Linked DNA regions of Homo sapiens. The protein of the gene in region 1 interacts with the protein of each later gene in a pairwise test. Each region holds a gene or a part of one and is shown in the gene's direction. Other genes may lie near its edges.

Region 1 (12,805 bases):
TCCACAACTTGCTTCGACCCGTTCTGCAAAGCAAGGACTGTAATTTGGTTCGCTATAATGTCATCAATGCATTGCCCAATACAGCTGATTCACTCATTGGGAGAGCTGCACATATAGCTGTTCTTGATTCGGAAATATTTTTAGAGAAATTCTTTCTGGTTGCTGCCCTCAAATATTTCCAATAGTATAAAAGCATTGTTAGCGACTGGACAATTACCTCATTCAACAATGTTTCAAATAATGTATTATATTAAAATGTAGATGCTGATAAGTTCTAAGAAATATTTATACCTTTTTATATGGAAGATAATTTATATCATCCATGTTTAGTGCTTTTTAAACATCAACTTTACTTTCTAGGTAATGTGGCTGTGCAATATTTTTTTAATTTTATCTTTTTACTTTTCTATTACTTTTTCATATATTTTGCTACCTAAGTATTTCAGTGAAACTTTAAGCCCATACCTGTGTCTGATTGTTTATTATTGGCTTTCCACAATTCTTACATCAGACTACATTATATTAGAGACCATTATTGCTAGAATAGCATGGGATTTAAAATTTTCTAATACTGGGGGTATTATTTAGTTAATTATAAATTTTTCTTTTCACATTTTACTGTGTTTTAACTGGAAATAAAATTATGGCTGCTACAATATATTTTTTGAAATCAACTTCTGTAGTTCTAAAATACAACTTTATCATACAATCAAACCAGGTAGTTCATATAAAACAGTGTAATACAAGTTTTCTATAAAGTCATTACTGTTGCTTAAACATATTTCATGCCTATTAAAATATATTTTCTACTGGTGATTTCAACATTATTTCTCATACTGACTTTTATTACTGGAAATGTTCCTGTACATGTTGGCAGCAGATAAAGATTTTTGAATGTTTGAATGCCCTCTGCCTTGATTTGGTTGGAATTTTTGCTAAATTGGTAATGTTGCTTGAACTTTATGACTACATTTTCTTTTAACTTTTTTCATGGACTTCCTTATATGTACATAATAATTAAATGTTGAAATTTATGAAATACTTTTATGAATTTAGATAATTTTTAAATATTGTTAAAATTTATTGAACTAAAAAGTAATGTAAATAAAATAATTCATGTTAAAGATGGAACAAAATAATTAACTTTACATGTTTGGTGATACAGATGCAAATGTTTTTGATATATGGAGATGTTGAGTCTTTTGACTTTACTAAAGGTGCTGAATAGCATTAAATTCACTATTTTCCTTTTCTGTTTTACTTGTGAAAATAAAAATGCACTAAGGTTGGGTAGAAGTTCTGTTTGCACTCACTAATTGTGACAGACAGAGGTTTTTGTAAGTATTTATTGTACAATTGATGCATGTTTATTTTTAGCGTTGTTATTGCCTCTGGTGTTAATAAATGAACAAATGGCTATCTGGAGGAACAGCTACAACCCTTGTAATCCTTTGCTTATTCTCTGAATACTAGAGGTATATATATTTTATTTATAACATAGACCAGCCTAATTATATAACTTGTAGCCTTTGTATTTTTATATCTTTTGTATATATTATTATAGTTAAAATAATTTTGATTGCTATTGATAATTATTTACTTTTTAGAAAGTACTCAAAATTTTTATAAACTAATATCCCAAGTGCATTATAACTAGAAAATGTAAATATATTAATTAGCCACCACATATTTTTGCCAAGCACATTTTTTATATTCCTATATCTTGGCTCTGAGTTTGAAATGTGCATATTCAAAGTTTGGATAATTTTCAGGTTTATCAAAGGACTCAATCATATAAATAGTATTTGAGTGGAAATTGCTCTTATCATAGTTGATTGATTAGTTTTTGGTTATTTTAATACAGTTCTAAAAGCACATCTGTGTTCATGGTTTAAAATCTAACAAATTTAACTTACTTGATTTATCTGGGAAACCACCACACACTATTCACCTCCAAATTCAGATTGTGGGAGATGGGGTACAGTTATGGGGGAGAGAGGAAACAATGATCTGAAATGGTATTATTGACTCTTACTTTAGAGAATGAATCTCATTGAAGTATACCAGTAAGAGTTCTTGGTTGCAAACAACAAAAAAAATTATGATCAACCTAAACAGAAAAAGAATTTATTGGAGGAGGATCAGGTAGCTCACAGAATTGATGGAAAGGCTAGAGAGCCAGGTTTGGAAAACAAATAGAAGCCAAAGGAAAGTAGATGACCAAAAGCATAGCCAAGTTCTGATGACCTCAGAGCTAAATGACTGTATTCTTCTCTAGCCAGGATGACCCTGGAAACTGGATTTCAAGTACTTGTTTTATCACTTCAGATTCAAAGCGTAGTAGAATGTCCAACTGACCAAGTTTAAGTCTTGTGCCAGTGCTTGGGCTGTCAGGCATCAAAGACAGCAGATGTATCTGACCTCGTTAGTTTCCACAGTAGAAAATGGGACCCTTTATTCTACCAAGGTTAACCAAACATATGAAATGGGTTTGATGACAGCACCAAATATAAAAACACATCAGGTGTAATATAGTCCATCTTTTTGTCTTCCCAACATCTGCAAGCATAATTCTCTCCATATTTACACATTTAAAATGCATCTTTCTGACATAGTACTACTATCCCTCATCCAGTTTTAAGTCCAGGACCTCAGTGTGATGTTCTCTGATTCTGTAATAATCTCATCTCAATAGTGTGCAACTCATAGACAAAATTGTGACCTAACCACCACCCCTATACATAATAACAGTATAATAGGAAAGAAGCTGGGCGTGGTGGCTTATGACTGTAATCCCAGCACTTTGGGAGGCTGAGGTGAGAGGATCACTTGAGCTAGGAATTCAAGACCAGCCTGGGCAACATAGCAAGACCCCATCTCTAGAAAATAATTTAAGTGAGCCTGGTGGCATGCACCTGTAGTCCCAGCTACTTGGAAGACTGAGGTGGGAGGATCACTTGAGTCCAGGAGTTCAAGGTTGCAGTGAGTTACTGCACTTCAGCCTGGGCGACAGGGAGACCCCCCAACTCAAATATATATATACATATGAAATAAGAGAAAATTTTATAAACATGCATGAGCCAGTGAGGAAGAAAACAAAATAGAGCAGGGCTTTGCAATGTCCGTGCCAAGAATTACCTAGACTACTTTAAAAATACACATTCTAGGACCTTATTACGGACCACCTGAATCAGAATTTTCAGGATAGTGTAAAAGCAGCAGCATGTTTTATGTCCCAAATTTCTCTAATAACACGTCGCAAATACAGTACTTAGTCCTGTCAGTGGTCGTGAATCTAGATGGTTATGACTTCTCACCACTGCCAACTATTTTCTGTTTTCTTTATGTTCAAGCAGCACCTCTGCTGATCAGATTTATGTATCCAGTGGATGACAGAGGATCTGAGGTGTGGGTGGTCTTGCCTATATATGGTTGTAATAGTCTTATATGTAAATGTTACCATTCAGCATGGTATTTTTTAAAATAAAATATAAAAACATGGTATTGTGAGGAGGGATTCCAGGAGACCCCCCTGACTTCTGGTTATACTGTTCTCCCTACTCTCTTTTCTCCATGGTCATCAGGGCCAATCACTCCAGCTAGCACCATCACCACTTTCTCTAACCTTACCTAGAGGAATGAGGTCAAAATGGCTGGGTGGCAATTCCAGCTGGGCACAAAAATTGCTATACCAACAGAACCTGGACTCAGAGATGGCTAGCAAGAGTAGTGAAGGGTCTGAGATTTTATCCTACTTGCAAGGTTACAGGCTAGGTTGCTGCAGTTTCATGGATGATGACAGGATACTCCTGGACAAAAGACAAAACAGCTTTATTACAGCAAAATAGAAGCCAGAGTGTCCGCATATTTGCATCAGTTCCCGTAGCCCAATTCCCACAGTGTGATGCAGAGGGCCGGATGACGTCTGTGCACATGGGGGGTTGCATTACAGAAGAATCCAGGATCAAGAATCAAGCAGTTTTTGAGCAAACAACAAACAAGCTAGTCTCTCTCCCCCAGGGAGCAGCAGTTAAATGGTAGTAATGCTGTGATTGCCTTGACCTACTTAGGTGCCTATATGACTAACTACAGAAACTGCTTAGCATCAGGAGATGGATACGGCTTGCAGTCTGGCACACTCAGTAATAATATACAGGCATGTTCAGGGGCCTTCGGAGCTTGTCTCTTCTCTACTACAATGGAAAGCAAAATATATTTTATATCAGTAAGTCATATGCAATAGTAAGAAGTCAGACCCTTTTCTACTCTTTGATCTCTGTTATTCTGTCAACAGAAGATATATCACCAAATACCGTTGACTCATTTGGAAAATATGACAAATCCTTTAGGGCAGTATCCCAAAGTGTATTTTCTCACCTCGTTCCAAAACAACCTTCAATAAGGCTGTCCGTCATTCCATAAAATCGGTTGCTTTTGGATGATGGAATATATAAGACTGTGAATCCTGCAGGCATTAGTCCCCTGCTTTACATCTTTCACAAGAAAATGAGTTCTTCGGTAAGAAGCAATGTTGTATATGATATTGTATTAAATATGGAGTAGTGTGTTAAGGTATTCAGTAAGTCCACAGGTGAAGTATATAATAAGCATAAATCAGGGAAAACAATCTAAATGCAGAATAATTGTCTCTTCCTGTAAGAACAAATTGCAACCTCCTTCATAACAGTAGGATTTCATTGTAATCAGACCTGCCACCCAGACCACATAAAAGTGTATCATGGGATCAAGTTGGTCACTGCAGTTGGCGAGTAGTGGTAGTAGCCAATCAGTCATGGCAGAAGAAAGACGGTGTTAAAAGTACATGTATGTCTCCATTCTTGCCACCGTGGCTACCTTGTTACTGAGTCCACACCTGTTGTGGGGGAAGGAGGCTGAGTAATTGATGTCCACAGAATGGGTCACTGTTGCAGCCCTTGTGTAATCCCCTTTTGAGAGTGGCCGGGACCTAATAATAGGATACAGTGGAAGTGGTGGGATGTCGCTACCGAAATGAGATTACAGAAGTTCAGGGCTTCCATTTTGAGTGGTCTTTCTTGCTCCTTAGTTCATTTGTCCTGTGGAAAGCCAGCTGCCATGTTGCAAGATAGCCTTTGGAGAAGCCCACTTAACAAATAACTGAGAAGGTTTCCAGTCCAAAGTCCACAAGGAACCAAATCTTGCCAATAATCATGTGAATGAGCTTGGAAGCAGATCTTCCCTTAGTTGTGCATTTATACGAGACTGGGACTTCAGCCAACAGCTTGGCTGCAACCTCATTTAGGACCCAGAACCACAGTCACTCTGGCTTCTAGGTTACTGATCCACAAAAACTGTGAGAGAATAACTGTTTATTGCTTTAAGCCAATAAATTTTGGGATAATTTGTGAGGCAGCAATAGATAACTAATAATCTTGTTCTGATTAAGAGCCCTTCTGCAATGGAAGCTCTTTTTTTTTTTTTTTTTTTTAACGTTCAATAGGACCCAAATGTTTTCATGCTTTGGGACCACTTTGAGAGGTCCTATTCCAAAGACCCAGTCCAAAACTTTTACATTCCCAGTTCCCAGCCACTTGACAAACCAGTCACTGCCTATGAAATGTCGATTTTTATCTCAAGCCATGTCTCTTTTTAGGCAAAGCATACAAGATAAGCTAAATTCTGGCCAGGCACAGTGGCTCACACCTGTAATCCCAGCACTTTGGGAAGCTGAGAGGGGTGGATCCCTTGAGGCCAGGAGTTTGAAACCAGCCTGGTCAACATGGCGAAACCCTGTCTCTACTAAAAATAGAAAAATCAGCCAGGTGTGGTGACATGTGCCTGTAAAAACATAAAATACATAAATAAGCTAAATTATGCATGCTGGAAATAATTTTTTTTCCCTGTTCTGTTCCTTCAGGGCCTCTGTTAAGTGGGGCTCTAAATATGAAAAGCAGTCAGTTGCCAGCTGGGCCAGTTTATTGAGCAAAGCCATCATCCGACTTTGAATTTTTTCCTCAGTCAGCTAGTCACAAGGAATTCATTATTAAACTGTAGATATAAGCTAAAGGTCAAAAGCATGATATTAGGACTGTGAGCTCCCTACAAATGAAAACTGTTTCCGTTTTGACTTTGGCCCAGTTCTGTGTATCCCACTTTCTCTCTTTTTTCTTTTTCTGTTTTTGAGATGGAGTTTTGCTCTGTCTCCAAGGCTGGCGTGCAGTGGCGTGATCTCTGCTCACTGCAATCTCCGCCTCCCGAGTTCAAGCGATTCTTCTACCTCAGCCTCCCAAGTAGCTGGGATTACAGGAATGTGCCACCTCGCCCGGCTAATTTTTGTATTTTTAGTAGAGTGTTGGCCAGGCTGGTCTCGAACTCCTGACCTCAGGTAATCTACCCGCCTCGGCCTCCCAAAGTGTTCGGATTACAGGAGTGAGCCACCTTGCCCGGCCCACTTTCTCTTCGTAAAAGGATCTCCTTATCTAGGAGAACCAGATAATTCTCAGTTCATGATAAGAAGCTTCGATCGTATAACCACTTGATGTCACATGGTCAGACACTACCAAGGCGCAATAGCTAGCCAGAAACTTTTCTTTAAAAGAAAAGACAAAATTCCAGAATTCTGGGGGCCTTCACTATGATTCTGTAAATATTTCCACGAGTTGCACAAAGCATCCAGGTCTGCCACATCCACTCAACGCTATCAGAGCTGGTGGGATGTAAGGGTTAAGGGGCAGAGCTCATTGCACTGGATCCTGGCCTGGATGGAGAGCCTTTTCTTGCTTTGCACCTCATTCAAAAATGTCGCCTTTCATATCATCTGGTTAGTCGGTCAGAATGGACGAACTAGGAGCTGACTGAACAAAGATTTAAAACACAAAACAGGGAGAATTAGGTAAAAGAAGCATTTTACATGAGTGAGAGAGTAAAAGGTGCTCAATCTTTGTAAACTATAAAAGGGATCTTCCACGGGCCATTTCGGCTCAGACTGACAAGCATGAACGGAACGGAATTATTCCCTCTTCTAACTGCAGCCACGATTTGGCGTTTTAACACCGGGCTCAAGGTAGCCTGGGTCTCTCTTGGCCAAAGAGCCCAGGGATGCCTCTAACTCCTTTTCTAAAGCCGGCCACGGAGGCCCCGCCCTCTGCAGGGAGGCTCCGGATCATGCCCCCTGCTCCTCCCACTACTGCTTTGCGCCTGCGCGGAGGCTCGGGGAGTCGGCGCCATGACCCCATCGAGGCTTCCCTGGTTGCTTAGCTGGGTCTCGGCCACGGCGTGGAGAGCGGCAAGTAAGCACCTGGCCTCGGGGCCACGGTCGCGGGAGGGGTCGTGAAGGCCCAGGCGCAGAGAGAAGCGCCTCCCGCGGAGGAAGCCGCGTGTGTCCTGGCCGTTCGGTGTTGCCAGGGGCTGCCCAGCTTCTCCCGCCCAGCCGCCCACCCGGTGGCCTGGGCAGGTTCCTGCAGCGCCCCGGGTCTCGGGTGGGACTAGAGCGAGAAAATCGCTAAGGCCCTTTCAGCCCCCGGGACGTCCGCTTCCTACCGAGCACGCGGTGGCCCAACAGGACCACAAACGTTCCGGGTTGTTCCTGTGGGAGCTCGCAGGGCACACCGCACTTCGATGCCCCAGAGAAAAATGGAAAAGAAGGCCCTTTGGGAATGGGAGTCATTGATTTACTTATTTATTTACATCATTATTTACAGGAATCCGCGCTCCTGGTCCAGGCTCCAGCAGAAAAGGATTTGTGGCAGTTTACAGTTTATCTTTTAAAAATGGGAAAAGTGCAGAAGTGAGCCAAAGGCAAATAAGTATAACGTAAATTAGATGAAGCCAGGAATTGTCAGTACAGAAAAAGCATTCATGCTTTCAGTAAAACCAACATTTTTAAACCCATTGTTGTTGGAAATTTTTCTCAAGATAATACAGTTAGCAGCCCAGACTATGCAAAACATAATTTTATTTATTTATTTATTTATTTGTTTATTTATTTTGAGATGGAGTCTCGCTCTGTCCCTCAGGCTGGAGTGCAGTGGCGCAATCTCGGCTCACTGCAAGCTCTGCCTCCCAGGTTCACGCCATTCTCCTGCCTCAGCCTCCTGAGTAGCTGGGACTACAGGCGCCCGCCACCGTGCCTGACTAATTTTTTGTATTTTTAGTAGAGACGGGGTTTCACCGTGTTAGCCAGGATGGTCTCGATCTCCTGACCTTGTGATCCGCTCGCCTCGGCCTCCCAAAGTGCTGGGATTACAGGCGTGAGCCACCGCGCCCGGTCCGCAAAACATAATTTTAATATATGACACCTGGAGAAGTTATGTAAGTTGAAAACAGTAATTATTGCCCTCAAATGGTGCCAGATTTCTATGCAATTTGTTTTCCTTTGTGCAATCATTTTACCCAAATACAAACATTTTACTTAATTGTATAAGTTTTAAATAGTCCAGAAATGAATAATACAGAAAGTGAAAGTCCTACATTATCCAAACCTCAAGGTAATAACGTTAAAATTTTGTAGGGTTCATTCAACATCCCCCTTTAACTAGTTTTAAACAATTATGAATTATTCCATATATATATATGTATACACACACACACACGTAGCACACATGTAAGCTATGTAGCAGTCATGTAAGCTATGAAGCACAACCAGCATCTATGAACTTATACTCCAATTTAAGAAATAGTCTCTATTGCCAAGGAGGTCTCTATTTGCTGCTTCCTGATACAACTGTGCAATGGTGTTTTTAATCTTTATAGAAATGTTTTCATATTGTTGATTTTTTTTCAGATAACGCTGTGTTTTGTGATTGAGTCACATTGACGCATGAGGTTGTAGTTATTCATTCAACTGTGTGAACATATGATGCATTTTCCAGTGCCCTTCTCAAAGGACATTTGGGTAATTCCAGAAACACTAGGATTGGGTGCTACACATTCTTGTGTACCTTATTTGTGCATTAGTGGAAGGAGTAGAATTCCTGGAGTATGTTATAGGTCTTTTCATTGTTACAATATAATGCCAAGGTGTAACGGCATTTTCTAATTCTATAGCAATTTTCACTTCTACCAGCAGTGTATTGGAGTTCTGTTGTTCCACAAACTTGCCGAAACTTAATTTTGCCTTAGGTTTTAATTTTTGGCTGCCTACAGGGAAATGAAATGACACCTCATTGTGATTTTGCTTTTCTCTGATTAAAGAAGTAAAACATCTTTTCAAATATTCACTTTTTGTGAAATACCTCTTTCTTTTTTCTTTTTTTTTTTTTTTTTTTTTGAGGCGGAGTTTCGCTCTGTCGCCCGGGCTGGAGTGCAGTGGCGCGATCTCGACTCACTGCAAGCTCCGCCTCCTGGGTTCACGCCATTCTCCTGCCTCAGCCTCCCGTGTAGCTGGGACTACAGGCGCGCGCCACCACGCCCGGCTAATTTTTGTATTTTTAGTAGAGACGGGGTTTCACCGTGTTAGCCAGGATGGTCTCGATCTCCTGACCTCGTGATCCGCCCGTCTCGGCCTCCCAAAGTGCTGGGATTACAGGCGTGAGCCACCGCACCCGGCCTCTTTTTTCTTTCTTTGTTTTTGAGACGGAGTTTCACTCTTGTTGCCCAGGCTGGAGTGCAATGGCGAGATCTCAGCTCACTGCAACATCTGCCTCCTGAGTTCAAACGATTCTCCTGCCTCAGCCTCCCAAGTAGCTGGTATTACAGGCGCCCACCACCACACCCAGATAATTTTTTGTATTTTTGGTAGAGACAGGGTTTTGCCATGAACTCAGGTGATCTATCAGCCTCGGCCTACCGAAGTGTTGGGATTACAGGCGTGAGCTGCCACGCCCGGCCTTTTTTCTTAACAGATTGCTTCTTATTTATATTCTTTACATATATTTGTATGCTAAACCTTTTTTAGTTACGTAAGTGTCAAATACCTCAATTTGTGGTTTGTTTCTGTCACTGCTAGGCAGAATAGAATAACGGGTCTGCATGTGTAATCATGCAGCTTCAATATAAAAGGTATCTTAATAAACAGATGTTTATAATTTTATCTATAAAATTTTGTCTTGATCCTTTTGTTTATTGTGACTGCCTTGTGGTCTTGTCTAAGAAACCCTTCTGTACCCTAAAGTCATGGACATAATCTCTTATATTTTCTTCTCAAAGGTTTATAGTTTTGCTTTTCACATTTAAGCCTTTATTCTACCAGGAATTGATGGTTTGTATATGGTGTGAGGCAGGAAACCAGTTTTCATTTTTTTTCATATCAAACACTTGTCCCAGGTTCATGTATTTATAGGACCTTTCCCCTACTGATATAATGCGAGCCATCATAAATCAAGTTTACTTATACATATAGGCATACGTTTATTTCTTGGCTCTTTTCTCAGTCCCATTGACCTATTTGTCTATTCCTGTGCTGATACTACCTGTCTTGATAATTATAGCCATAACTTTGTTATAAATCTTACTATTTTCTGACTGTTGTTTATGTACAGAAACATGATGCTTAATGATTTTGTATCTAAATTACCTTATTAATTTAAATAATTTACTTTGCAGATTTTGGGGACTTTGCTGCATAGCCATTCATATCATCTGCAAATGGTGACAGTCTAGTTTCTCCCTGTCTAATCCTTTTTTTTGAGAAAGGGTCTTGCTCTGTCACCCAGGCTGGAGTGCAGTGGCGCAATCTCTGCTCACTGCAACCTCCACCTCCCGAAATCAAGTGATTCTCCTGCCTCAGCCTCCCGAGTAGCTGGGATTACTGGTGTGCACCACCATGCCCGGCTAATTTTTATATTTTTTTTAGAGATGGGGTTTTGCCATGTTAGCCAAGTGATCCTTGAGAGCCTCGGCCTCTCAAAGTCCTGGGATTACAGGCGAGAGCCACCGTGCCCCCCACCACCCTCCCTGTCTAATCCTTATATCTTTTTTCTTTCTTTGCTCAGATTTCCAGCACCATGTTGACTAGAAGTGTTGACAGCAAGCATACTTATCTTGTTTATGATTATAAAGGGAATGCATTTCTTTTTATCATTAAGGTGTGATATTGCAGTCATTTAGATAAAATTGCTACATTTTTTTTTAAGTCACCATCTCCTAATAACTTCTAAGGCATGTTTTATAAACGAATCCTCAGGGAAGAGTTCTAGCTATCTCCCAAATAATTCTGTTCTTTTAAACCAAAAAATCTCCGTCTTATGTTTTTGTTAAAACTCTTTATTTTGGATTTACATTTACTTACAGGATTTAATGATCCATAACTGTGGGTCTTCAGAGTCCAAGCCTTTGTGAAATAAAATTTCATGGAACATGAAAAAAAAAATATGGTATTAGCTACAGTTATACCCTTTTTGGGTTAAGGAAGTCTGTTTCTATGTAGAGTTTTGGGATTTTGTTTTGTTTTTGTTTATGTATTTGTATTTGTTTTTTAATGATGAATAAATCTTGAAGTTTACTTAATTGATTTTTCTTTGTCTTACTGAGGTGTTCTTCGTCTTACTGAGGTGTTTATCATTTTCTGCTTTAATCTGTTGAGGTGGTAAATTACAGATTTTTCTGATAGTGAATCACTTGCATTCCTAGAAAATATTCCAAAGGATCATAGTGATTATATTTTTAAATATAATGTTGTATTTGTTGTGCTTATATTTTGTTTAGAAATTGGCCTGTAATTTTCTTCTATTATACACTGAAACCCCTGCCTCCCGGGTTCAAGTTATTCTTCTGCCTCAGCCTCCGGAGTAGCTGGGATTACAGGCACACGCCACCACTCCCAGCTAATTTTTGTATTTTTAGTAGAGACAGGGTTTCACCATATTGGCCAGGCTGATCTCAAACTTCTGACCTCGTGATATGCCTGCCTTGGCCTCCCAAAGTGCTGGCATTACAGGTGTGAGCCACCGCGCCCAGCCTTCCCTGGTTTTAATATTAAGGTTATTCTAGCCTCATATAATGTACTGGGGATTCTACTCACTCTTTTCCCTTCTTTGTTAGATTTTGTTTAAGATTGGAATTATTTGTTCCTTGAGGGTTTGTTACAACTCACCTGCAAAACTGTCTAGACCTGTTCTTCTCTTCGAGGGAAGACTTTAAATTACTTGTTTAACTTCTATAATGGTTATTATTATATTTATCAGGTTTCCTCTTAAGTCAGTTTTGGTAAGTTAACTTTTTCTGGAAAGGTTTCCATTTTGTATTGTTTCAATATATAGGCATAAAGTTTCTGGTATTTTTTTAAAATTTTCTGCTCTCCATATAATATGTACTCTCTTTTTCTCATATTATCTATTTTGCTTTCTCTTGTTTTTTTATAGTAGCCTTACCAAAGCTTTTACAACACTTTCAGTCTTTTTTTGTCTTTTTTTTTTTTTTTTTTTTTTTTTTTTGAGACAAAGTCTTGCTCTGTCGCCCAGGCTGGAGCGCAGTGGTGCGATCTTGGCTCACTGCAACCTCCACCTCCCGGGTTCTAGTGATTCTCCTGCCTCAGCCTCATAGCTGGAATTACAGGCGTGCACCACCATGTCTGGCTAATTTTTGTGTTTTTAGTAGAGACGAGGTTTCACCATGTTGGCCAGGCTGGAACACTTTCAGTCTTTTCAGAGCACCAACCTTTGTTTATTGTTGATCTTCTTTGTTATAAGTTATGCAAAGGATATTTATTGTACAACATGGTGACTATAGTTAATATCAGTGTATTGTATACTTGAAAATTGCTGAAAGTAGATTTTAAATTTTCTCATCACAAATAATAGATATGTGAGTTAAGGCATATATTAGCTTGATTTAGCTATTTCACAATATATACATATTTGAAAACATGCTGTACACCATAAATGTATAT
Region 2 (11,769 bases), on another chromosome or scaffold:
AAATCTACAATAAATGGATAAATTCCTCGACACATACATCATCCCAAGACTAAACGAGGAAGAAGTTGAATCTCTGAAAAGACCAATAACAGGCTCTGAAATTGAGGCAATAATCAATAGCTTACCAATCAAAAAAAGTCCAGGACCAGATGGATTCACCGCCGAATTCTACCAGAGGTGCAAAGAGGAGCTGGTACCATTCCTTCTGAAACTATTCCAGTCAACAGAAAAAGAGGGAATCCTCCCTAACTCATTTTATGAGGCCAGCATCATCCTGATACCAAAGCCTGGCAGAGACACAACCAAAAAAGAGAATTTTAGACCAATATCCTTGATGAACATCGATGCAAAAATCCTTAATAAAATACTGGCAAACTGAATCCAGCAGCACATCAAAAAGCTTATCCACCATGATCAAGTGGGCTTCATCCCTGGGATGCAAGGCTGGTTCAATATACGCATATCAATAAATGTAATCCAGCATATAAATAGAACCAAAGACCAAAACCACATGATTATCTCAATAGATGCAGAAAAGGCCTTTGACAAAATTCAACAACACTTCATGCTAAAAACTCTCAATAAGTTAGGTATTGATGGGATATATCTCAAAATAATAAGAGCTATCTATGAAAAACCCACAGCCAATATCATACTGAATGGGCAAAAACTGGAAGCATTCCCTTTGAAAACGGGCACAAGACAGGGATGCCCTCTCTCACCACTCCTATTCAACATAGTGTTGGAAGTTCTGGCCAGGGCAATCAGGCAGGAGAAGGAAATAAAGGGTATTCAGTTAGGAAAAGAGGAAGTCAAATTGTCCCTGTTTGCAGACGACATGACTGTATATCTAGAAAACCCCATCATCTCAGCCCAAGATCTCCTCAAGCTGATAAGCAACTTCAGCAAAGTCTCAGGATACAAAATCAATGTACAAAAATCACAAGCATTCTTATACACCAATAACAGACAAACAGAGAAACAAATCATGAGTGAACTCCCATTCACAATTGCTTCAAAGAGAATAAAATACCTACAAATCCAACTTACAAGGGATATGAAGGACCTCTTCAAGGAGAACTACAAACCACTGCTCAATGAAATAAAAGAGGATACAAACAACTGGAAGAACATTCCATGATCATGGGTAGGAAGAATCAATATCATGAAAATGGCCATACTGCCCAAGGTAATTTATAGATTCAATGCCATCCCCATCAAGCTACCAATGACTTTCTTCACAGAATTGGAAAAAACTACTTTAAAGTTCATATGGAACCAAAAAAGAGCCCGCATTGCCAAGTCAATCCTAAGCCAAAAGGACAAAGCTGGAGGCATCACGCTATCTGACTTCAAACTATACTACAAGGCTACAGTAACCAAAACAGCATGGTACTGGTACCAAAACAGAGATATAGATCAATGGAACAGAACAGAGCCCTCAGAAATAACGCCGCATATCTACAACTATCTGATCTTTGACAAACCTGAGAAAAACAAGCAATGGGGAAAGGATTCCCTATTTAATAAACGGTGCTGGGAAAACTGGCTAGCCATATGTAGAAAGCTGAAACTGGATCCCTTCCTTACACCTTACAGAAAAATTAATTCAAGATGGATTAAAGACATAAATGTTAGACCTAAAACCATAAAAACCCTAGAAGAAAACCTAGGCAATACCATTCAGGACATAGGCATGGGCAAGGACTTCATGTCTAAAACACCAAAAGCAATGGCAACAAAAGCCAAAATTGACAAATGGGATCTAATTAAATTCAAGAGCTTCTGCACAGCAAAAGAAACCACCATCAGAGTGAACAGGCAACCTACAGAATGGGAGACAATTTTTGCAACCTACTCATCTGACAAAGGGCTAATATCCAGAATCTACAATGAACTCAAACAAATTTACAAGGAAAAAACAAACAACCCCATCAAAAAGTGGGTGAAGGATATGAACAGACACTTCCCAAAAGAAGACATTTATGCAGCCAAAAAACACATGAAAAAATGCTCATCATCACTGGCCATCAGAGAAATGCAAATCAAAACCACAAGGAGATACCATCTCACACCAGTTAGAATGGCAATCATTAAAAAGTCAGGAAACAACAGGTGCTGGAGAGGATGTGGAGAAATAAGAACACTTTTACACTGTTGGTGGGACTGTAAACTAGTTCAACCATTGTGGAAGTCAGTGTGGCGATTCCTCAGGGATCTACAACTAGAAATACCATTTGACCCAGCCATCCCATTACTGGGTATATACCCAAAGGATTATAAATCATGCTGCTATAAAGACACATGCACACGTATGTTTATTGCGGCACTATTCACAATAATAAAGACTTGGAACCAACCTAAATGTCCAACGATAGACTGGATTAAGAAAATGTGGCACATATACACCGTGGAATACTATGCAGCCAGAAAAAATGATGAGTTCATATCCTTTGCAGGGAAATGGATGAAGCTGGAAACCATCATTCTCAGCAAACTATCTCAAGGACAAAAAACCAAACACTGCATGTTCTCACTCATAGATGGGAATTGAACAATGAGAACTCATGGACACAGGAAGGGGAACATCACACACCAGGGACTGTTGTGGGGTGGGGGGACGGGGGAGGGATAGCATTAGAAGATATACCTAATGCTAAATGACGAGTTAATGGGTGCAGTACACCAACATGGCACATGTATACATATGTAACAAACCTGCATGTTGTACACATGCACCCTAAAACTTAAAGTATAATAATAAAAAAAAGGGATATTGTGAAGAGTAAATTTGGCAGTACCTGGGACTTTTACTATATATTAAAAATATTGTAGACAACATCATGTTTTGAGAAGTGTTTTTGCTGAAATTGGTAACTAGAGAAAGCAAAAGGCATTAAATAACCCACTTTCCGAACTTCCAGTAGGGAGGCAGCCTCTTTCTCACCCAGTTTGCACTATAACTCCCTACCTCGCCATAGGAAAGTCAATTTGAAGTGAGGGATCTGTTAGGGAATGCAGAGAAGACAAACATTCCAGTGGTTCCTTGCCCCGAAGATGACAGAGGAAAACCTCATGAGGACTGAAAAGTTTGAGTGTGTATGTAGGACCAATTCTTCTAGCCCAGTTAAATATCACATGAGTCACCAGGCCTGCTAACTTGCCTTGGAACTACCACAGAGAAGGAAAAGCTTTGGAGGGTGATGGTGCAGTGGTATGGCCCGACAGAGAAGGGGACAAGCATGCCACCTTTAGTTCTAGGTTCCTGAGATGTGCAGAAGGTAGAACCCAGCCACCTGAGAACTGGGGTCCTGGAGGGTAGGTGAGATTGAAGGACAAAGACTGACTGCAAACCAATGAATGAGGCAGAGCACCCTCTGAGGCTTAGGAACTCGTGGGGTTCAGTAGGGCTCTCCTCGGCCAGCCCTGTGCACTGCCCTTGTCTACACTGCTGCTGGTGGTGGTGAACTAGACAGTGGGGATGGCCAACAGAAAGGGATAGAGCCTCTCTCTGGCCACTCACACAGGACGACATCATTTCCCTCTCAAATGAACATACACAGGGAGTTGGGGGGTTATTAAAGACCTCAACTTCTCCCCAAAACTACTGGAGTCTGTAGTTTGAATTGTGGTGATAGGAAGAAAATATCTAAGTGTTTCTAACAGAAGTGAGATATTAGTAATGAGAATTCACTGATGAGCTTGGAATCAGGTTAAGATGTGGGTAAGGGAGCCACCTAGCCAGAGAGAAAGGAAGATTAGCAGAAGAGAGTTAGAAATAAATTAACTGGAAAAAAATAAGCCTGTCATACATTAACGACTTGACGTTCCTCAACTATTCAGTTGCAGTTATTATCTGAAAACTAATCTTCCTTTTCCTAGCTAGTCTCTTGTCTCTTGTTATTGGGTTTGTGTTCACATTATCTATTTTGAAGATTTTCAAATCTTTTTGTTTTCTCCCCATATAATCATGGTAATGGAACATAAAATGCCTAAGACATGAATGAAAATTCACATGTCCTTGTTTGCTTCCTTGCTACTTTATCACAAATATTTCCAGGACAGCACATGTTTTTAATAACTTGTACGTTCTTATAATTATAATATAGATCCTTTGTAAACATATGAACTGCAAAAATAGAAGACTGTAAAAGTCACCCATATTTTACCATTCAGATATATTCTGGTTAATGTTTGCTGTATACTATTTCTAACTTTTTAAGTCATAGGTAAACTTTCTTAAAAATTAAAATGTGTCAGATTACACAAACTATTTTGTAAACCGCTTTTTCATTTTCAGCCTCTAGAAGAGTGCCTGGCACATCCTAAGTTTTCAATAAATATTTGTCAAATAAATGACTGAACTTATTTCCATACCATTAAATGTTTATCTGTGGTGTCATTTTTAACCATTGCACAGAATTCTATTGTGTGAAATATGATAATTTATCTAACAAGGCCCTGAAGAGCTGCAGAGGAATAAGGCCTTGTGATGGACACAGAGGTGCTCCATGCAGTCCCCCTTGAAGTGGGAGGTTGCCCTGCTGCTGGGAGTACTTGCAACCTCCAGCCTCCAGTTATCAGCCCCTTTCAGGACTTGCCTCAGCTACAGAAAGCTGCCTTCCCAGGGTAATCCACATTGAAGGGCAGATCATAGAGGAGCCCAGTGTCAGAGCTACTCTGACAGGCCATCTTCCTCCAGAGTTTCCTGAGGAGGGCTGCTTAAGACTGTCCCATCTATATTGCAGCTCAACTTCTTCCTCTGCCCAGTCCTGTTTCTCCCCTCTCCCTGCCATGGGTGTTAATCTCAGGGCACTGTCTAATAAATATATTGCACACTAAATTTTGTCTCAAAGTCTGCTCCTGAACAACCTAACCTGCAACAGAGATGATGCTGACCTTTGAGGAACTCCCAAGTCTATTGGTAAAAGCACTCAGTAAATTCTAACATTACTGCAGTTACCGATTCCTAACTCAGGTTAAACAAGCGATGGCGCATGTATACCATGATAGGTTATGCAGCCATTAAAATAATGTTCTGGGTGCCATGTATAACACATGATGGCTCCAGAAGTCAGGGAAGAAGGAAAAAAGAAGGGAAGGGAAGAGAAGAGAAAGGGAGGGAAGAAGAGGGGAGGGAAGAATTGGACATCAGATAATCACTTGAGCCCTCTCTCTCCGTGAATTTTTCCCAATCTGTTTCTTTCCACATCTCTTGCTCCTTATCAGTCTTTGGGCCACCTACAGTATGAGCATTACTTGGGCAATTACTGTCTCTCTGAATTTGGCATATGCAAATTATAGAAACTAAAACTGGACATGGCCCTACACAGGTAAGCACATATCAGCATCGCTGTGAGCGGTCAGGACTAACAAGCCTTCAACACACAAAAGCAGGAGTAAGGATCAAATTACACAAATCAAATCAAATCAAATCAAAATAAAATCCCTGAGTTTGTATTCCAGTAAAGCCCAAACCTAGGAGGGATCCAGGAAAGCGATGAGTGTGGCTGTCAAGGTGCTTCCATCTGTCAGAGTCACACATTCCAAAGCAGCAGAAATCAACTGACAGCCTCCGGTTACTCCCCCGCCTCAGCGAGGCAGGGCAGGCAGCGGAAAGCTCAGCCCATGTGAGGTGCCTCCTGCCAATCACAGACTACCCTTCCCTGGTCCTGGAGGTTCAAAGAATTGCAGGAGGGTAGAAAAGCACCTGGGTCGGGTGCAGACTGCGGAGCGGGCCCTACCGTGTGCGCAGAAAGAGGAGGCGCTGTGAGTAGACCGCTTTCCCTCTGCAGGGAATCTCCCGGGCTCAAGGGCTGGGTTGCTCTCCTGGGAGGGAAGCTAGCAGACTGGGAGGGAAAGGGGAAGAAGTTAGATTCTTGATTCATAAAGTCTGTCATTTTTTTCTTTGTAATTTAGGGTATTGTGACTGTCCTGTTCTCTTTTACTTTGAACCGTTGGAATTGCTTTCTTAATACCCTTGATATAAGTCTTGTTCTCATTAAACTTCTGGAGATATTACGCAGCCATCCTGCTTTCAACCTCAGATATCCCCACAGAAAGAACAAGAAAATCCAAGCACCCCGAGAAACCCTATATCTCCTGATTAAATCGCACATAGACAGTCACCTTTGTAGACCCCCAATTTCCTTGTGGAGTCAGAAAAGCAATAGAAAGTTTAACGAAATAGCTCGTGTTATTTCTTAATAATCTGTTCAGGCTAGCAGAGAGAAAGTTTCTTGGTCTTCTTGTCAGAAATCATTTGGTCCTGCCAACCTGTAATGAAATGTGTGAAGCAATTTACTCCCAGTTATTCTCTGCAAACACTTCTGCTTAATAAATGTGTCAGTTGAAGTAAGTCAACAAAGTAGCTTTATCTACGCAATGTTATTTTTACATAATTTGTTTTTACTCCTTACCAATTCTTTGCTCCACCATGATCTGCAGGACATAAAGATATTTTTCATTCTGATCACATTTTCACACAAAATACAAATTTAAGTTTCAAATAATGCTAGTATTATTTTATGTTTGCATTTGTTTATAAACCTAAAACTCCACTTCTAACTAGTTTTAAAGATTTTTAAGCCATTTAAGAATTCGTAGCCAGTCACAGTGGCACATGCCTGCAGTTCCAGCTATTCGGGAAGCTGAGGCCACGTGATCAGGAGTTCTAGTCCAGGCTGGGCAACATAGTGAGATCCTGTCTCTAAAAAAAATAAAAATAAATTTTTAAAGAAGTTTTGTTAACTTGAATGTCTTCTTTTAATGAAAGACAACGTTTCTTGAACATTTCTTGCCTGAGTTGCTAAGCACAACAGGAAAGAACTCATTAGGTTTTATAGATATACATACTTTGAGTATAAACAAAATTTAGGTTACATAGTTTTCAGACCCTATGAAGAAGTGGATTTTCTTTTTATTAACCTTCTCAGTGAGGAGAAAAATTTCTTACTTTGCTTTCTGCTCCAACAGATTGTTTTGCTTTCTGCTATAAAATAGTCTTTAAAATCAACTCACCTATTTTTTTTTTTTTTAACTGCTGGGAAGAATCATAGACTTTTACATCCAAAGGGGACCTTAGACATCATTTAATCAAGGGGAAAAAAAAGAAACTCAGAACTTTTTTTTTCTTTTATTTTCTTTTTTTTTTTTTTTTTTTTTTTTTTTTTTTTTTTGAGACGGAGTCACTCTGAGGCCCAGGCTGGAGTGCAGTGGCGTGATCTCTGCTCACTGCAAGCTCTGCCTCCCGGGTAGATGCCATTCTCCTGCCTCAGCCTCCCGAGTAGCTGGGACTACAGGTGTCTGCCACCACGCCCGGCCAATTTTTTGTATTTTTAGTAGAGACGGGGTTTCACCGTGTTAGCCAAGATGGTCTCAATCTCCTGACCTCGTGATCCATCCACCTCAGCCTCCCAAAGTGCTGAGATTACAGGCTTGAGCCACCGCACCCGGCCAAAACTCAGAACTTCTTTTTGACTTCTCCTGCTTACAATCTTAACCAGAGTAAACACCAGCCAGCCTTTAAATATGCTCTGGAATTTGTGCCTGATAGCCATGCAGGCTGCCCACAAACTTGATGGGCCACCATTCACCAACTGGGACAGAGACCACATTGGTGAGGGGGCACCATCATCACACACCGCCCTACCCGCCTGCCCACCCCCTCCCCCCCGCCCCAAGGACTCTCCATAGTACTCCTGCCCTGGAGCTGGGCATCTCTCTGGCAATGCCCACACCTGAGGCCCTCGTGCAACTGAGTGCTCCTGAGCCATTGCTTACAGCTAGTCCCTGATTTCCAATGGGTGGATGACTCCCATCATACTGGGAGCACCAGGAATCAAGAGCAGTGCTGTCCAGTAAAACTTTCTGTGATGAGGGAAATGTTCTAGATAATAGACACTAACCACATGTATCTAGGGAGTGCTTGAGATGTGGTTGGAGCAACTGAGGAACTGATTTTTACTTTTATTTAATTGAATTCTTTTGACTTTAAATAACTGCATGCAACTACTAACTACTGTATTAGTCAACACAGGTTTAGAGCTTTAAAGCAAGAAAAACTTATGGGCACTGTGAGCCATGGGTGACAGCCCTGGGAGAAACCTCCTCTTTTTGTTATTTCCAGGGACTTATCCTACCTTAAGTTGAAGCAGACCAGCAATTGTTGTGACCTACAATCTCCACACCCATCTTTACTCTGAGCCAAGGAAGTGTCTGTTCTTGTGCTGAGTTTCAGGGTGAGGGCTAAGGCAATCGCATATTGTGTTTCTTTGTTTCTTCCTCTCCTATTTTTCCTTTTCTTTTTTTCTCCTTTGTTAATTCAAATTTCTCTAGCATGAACTAAAGTTTGAGGTGTGGTTTGTGTGTTCTCTGGTACAACAAACTTGGGTGAGGAAAAGAGGTAATGAACTTGAAAAAATGATCTCATGCTTACTGGGCGAGTCTCACTTCTTTTTCTTCTGCTTTGCAAATTGGTTTGTTTAGTGAGCAATTGTTTTTAGACCTTTCAATGTGTCTGGAAACATCAACACTACGGGTATGATTAATTTTTATAGGAAAACAAACTGAGTGAAAGCACAATAAAGAAAAAACAAGAAATATAATTCTAGCTTTAAAAAAATCTGCACTCTTTAAAGCAAAGGAACTCCCAGGGTATTGAGCAATTTGAGTAAATCATCATCATACCAGGCCACAGGGCAGTTTTCCCACAGGGCGGGGTGCACAGGGGCTATTCCTTTACATGGAAAATATTTCGAGGTGAGTTGCGTACTTTCAGTCTGGGGCGTTCCATCTCTAACGCGGGCAGTTGCTGCTCTGCCCTCTGCCTTCCACCGCTTTCCACTTGTTAAATGTAACTCATCCCATTGGTTTCCTTCCCACCCCTGCCAGATAAGTAATCCAATATAGTCAGGGAGGCATTGTTTTAGAATAACGTGGGGAGGGTTCAGAAGACCACATATCTAAAACAGTTTCTACATACTGTGGGCTAAAAGAGAAGGCAGGAAAGAGGACACATCATATCATTAGAAGTCAGTATAGCCAGAGAGACAGACCCAAACCCCCAAATCATAAGTTACGAGGTTTGTCTTTTTAGGTTCTACCCTCTCCTTGGGTCTCTTTCCTTCTCATGGTGTCTTCCCTCGCCCTTTGAAAATTAAATAAGAGAAGGGAGCTGATAAATGAGGCATTGACATGGATGGCTCATGAAACTCAATGTGCCTCTTTTATATGAGCTTGCATTTTAATCAGGAATGAAGGAGTGAGTCTCAAATTGTGGCATTCAGAAGTTAGGGTAAACGGTGAGGAAGCCTTTGAATGAAGGAAAAGGATAGAAGGCTTTCTCCCTGCCAGCTTTGTTTATGTGGCTCCCTTTCTGGCTTATCTTGTAGTGAGTCTCATGGGTAGGCTCACAGGTGGGAGGTCAAGAGTTTCTCTTAATTTAAAAAGACGTAAAGGGAAGTGGATCTCCCTACCTTAAAAAGAATAATCATTAGTGACAAACCCCATAGAAGGCTGGGTTAAGAGTTAGGAAACCTGGACTTGAATCTTAACTCTTTTAATAACACATCATGATCGTGAACAAGTCACTTTCTCTCTGTGAGCCTTAAATTTCTCACCTGTACAAAGCCTCCAAGTTTGCAGCCAGAACTGATGTATCATGCCGTGAACAGGCACCTGGCCAATAACTGTCCTAGGATGAATGACACTTTAATGTCTCTCAAATTACATATCTTCTAAGACAAACAAAAACTACCAAAAGTGTAGTCATTGACTTCTAAGTGTGACACCCGTCAATTAATTTAAAAGTTTATAATTTTGCTTTTTAATGCAATTATTTGTTAAATTGGCTTTTTTGATGCACAGCAATCCAATTTTTGTGGCTTCAGAATATCTTATTAAACAAACTTGGGTGAAGAAAAGACGTAACAACGTACCAGACTATATTGCTGTGGCAGAGGCTAGTATGGAAGAAAAGCCATAAACACATATCCACAATGGTTTCAGCTTCCCTGGAGAGCTATTTGCTATAGGCAGAGAGAGGGATATAGGGAAGGAAGGATAATTCTGGGTAAGAGAAGTTGAGGAGAGAAGAGGTTTTTCAGCTGGGCTTCGGAAGGTGGTAAAGAGTTCGATAGGCAGAAATGGGAGAAGGGATTCCAAAGACAGGGACACCCTAAGCACAGCATGGTGGCATGACCAGGACACCAAAGGGTTGGGGGGGTGGGGCACGCAGTGAAAAATGGCAGGCAGGCCATTTAGAACCTGGATGGGTGCTGCCTTGAATACACACTGAGGAGTTTGTACTTTATCTCTTAGGTGGTCCAACCACTCCTCCACTGGCTGAATGGAAAATATAATAGTTGGGTCTGGCCAAATACTATAGACTGGTCTTTCAGAAGGGAACAGGAGCAAATCTGGATTCAAAGAAACTGGTCAGCAACAGAGAGTGGGGGGACAAGTGATGAACCTGGCAATAGGAAGTAAGTAGGAGCTGGTGGCTGGGCTTGTAAGTGCAGAGGGAATGACCGAGGGCTCTCCTTTGAATTTAGGCTACAGGGAACCTTTGAAGGGTTCTAAGCAGGGGGGAGATATAAATTCAGAGCTGTGTTTTAGGACAGTGGATCTCAAGATTGGCTAAGTGGCTGGCACTTGGAAGCCATGTTTATCTTTGTAGAATACCAGAAAATTTTGGTCTACTAAATTTAAAATAAGTAAGTAGATCATTTTGGCCTAAATTCATACCAAAAACTAGATTTTAGCATAGACAGGTGGTAGTAGCATCCACAATTTAAGAAAAATGTGTAAGAGGAAAATGTTTAAAATCACAAATTTTTATAGTAATTTTTCCTCAAATTAGGAAATGACTGGAATCATTCAATATTGGCATCAAAACATGTTGTCCCAGTAAATGGAACATCTGTGTTTTGGAGGATCATTTGAGAACCTCTGCTTGAGAAAGTTCACCATGGAAGCACTGTATGGAATGGAAACAGAAAATGTTTAATTCATCTGATCCAGAAGTTAGGGGCTGGCAGTGGGAATTGGTAAAATGGTATCAGGAGACATCAGAAAATGATCATATGTGCTTCTATCAAAAATATACATCAATCCCAATTGGGATGGTGTGTTACTCAAGGTTCTTTCAGAGATAGAACCAAAAGGAGATACATAAAGAGAGAGAGAGGCAACGTATGGTGGCTCACGCCTATAATCTCCACACTTTGGAAGGCCAAGTCTTGAGGACAGGAGTTCAAGACCAGCCTGGGCAACATGATGAAACCCCTTCTCTACAAAAAATTTAAAAATTAGCCAGACATTGTGCATGCACCTGTGGTCCTAGCTACTTGGGAGGCTGAAGCAGGAGGATCACTTGAGCCTAGGAAGTCAAGGCTGCAGTGAGATATGATTGTGCCACTGCACTCCCTGGGTGACACACAAAGACCCTGTTGAGAGAGAGAGAGGGAGAGAGAGAGAGGGAGATATATATATATATATATATATATATATATATATATATATATATATTAATTCTAAGGAATTAACCTATGTGATGTGATTGTGGGGGCTGACAAGTCCGAAATCTATACAGCAGGTGGGCAACCTGAAAATTTGGGGAAGAGTTGATGTTGCAGTCTTTTTTTTTTTTTTTTTTTTGAGACGGAGTCTCGCTCTGTCGCCCAGGCTGGAGTTCAGTGGCCTGATCTTGGCTCACTGCAAGCTCGGCCTCCCGGGTTCACGCCATTCTCCTGCCTCAGCCTCCCAAGT

What was found.
Region 2: the proteins of SDHAF4 (region 1) and UPK1B interact in binary tests that used the Homo sapiens proteins (3 or more experiments, as listed by UniProt).

The regions. Positions count from the first base shown.
Region 1 is NC_000006.12:70,559,737-70,572,541, forward strand, and holds the start of SDHAF4 (succinate dehydrogenase assembly factor 4, mitochondrial precursor), read left to right. Parts: upstream 1-7,193; 5' UTR 7,194-7,204; coding exon 7,205-7,268; intron 7,269-12,805. Other genes in the region: protein FAM135A, read left to right, coding at 1-185. UniProt on the Homo sapiens protein: Plays an essential role in the assembly of succinate dehydrogenase (SDH), an enzyme complex (also referred to as respiratory complex II) that is a component of both the tricarboxylic acid (TCA) cycle and the mitochondrial electron transport chain, and which couples the oxidation of succinate to fumarate with the reduction of ubiquinone (coenzyme Q) to ubiquinol.
Region 2 is NC_000003.12:119,167,870-119,179,638, forward strand, and holds the start of UPK1B (uroplakin-1b), read left to right. Parts: upstream 1-5,728; 5' UTR 5,729-5,769; intron 5,770-11,769. UniProt on the Homo sapiens protein: Component of the asymmetric unit membrane (AUM); a highly specialized biomembrane elaborated by terminally differentiated urothelial cells.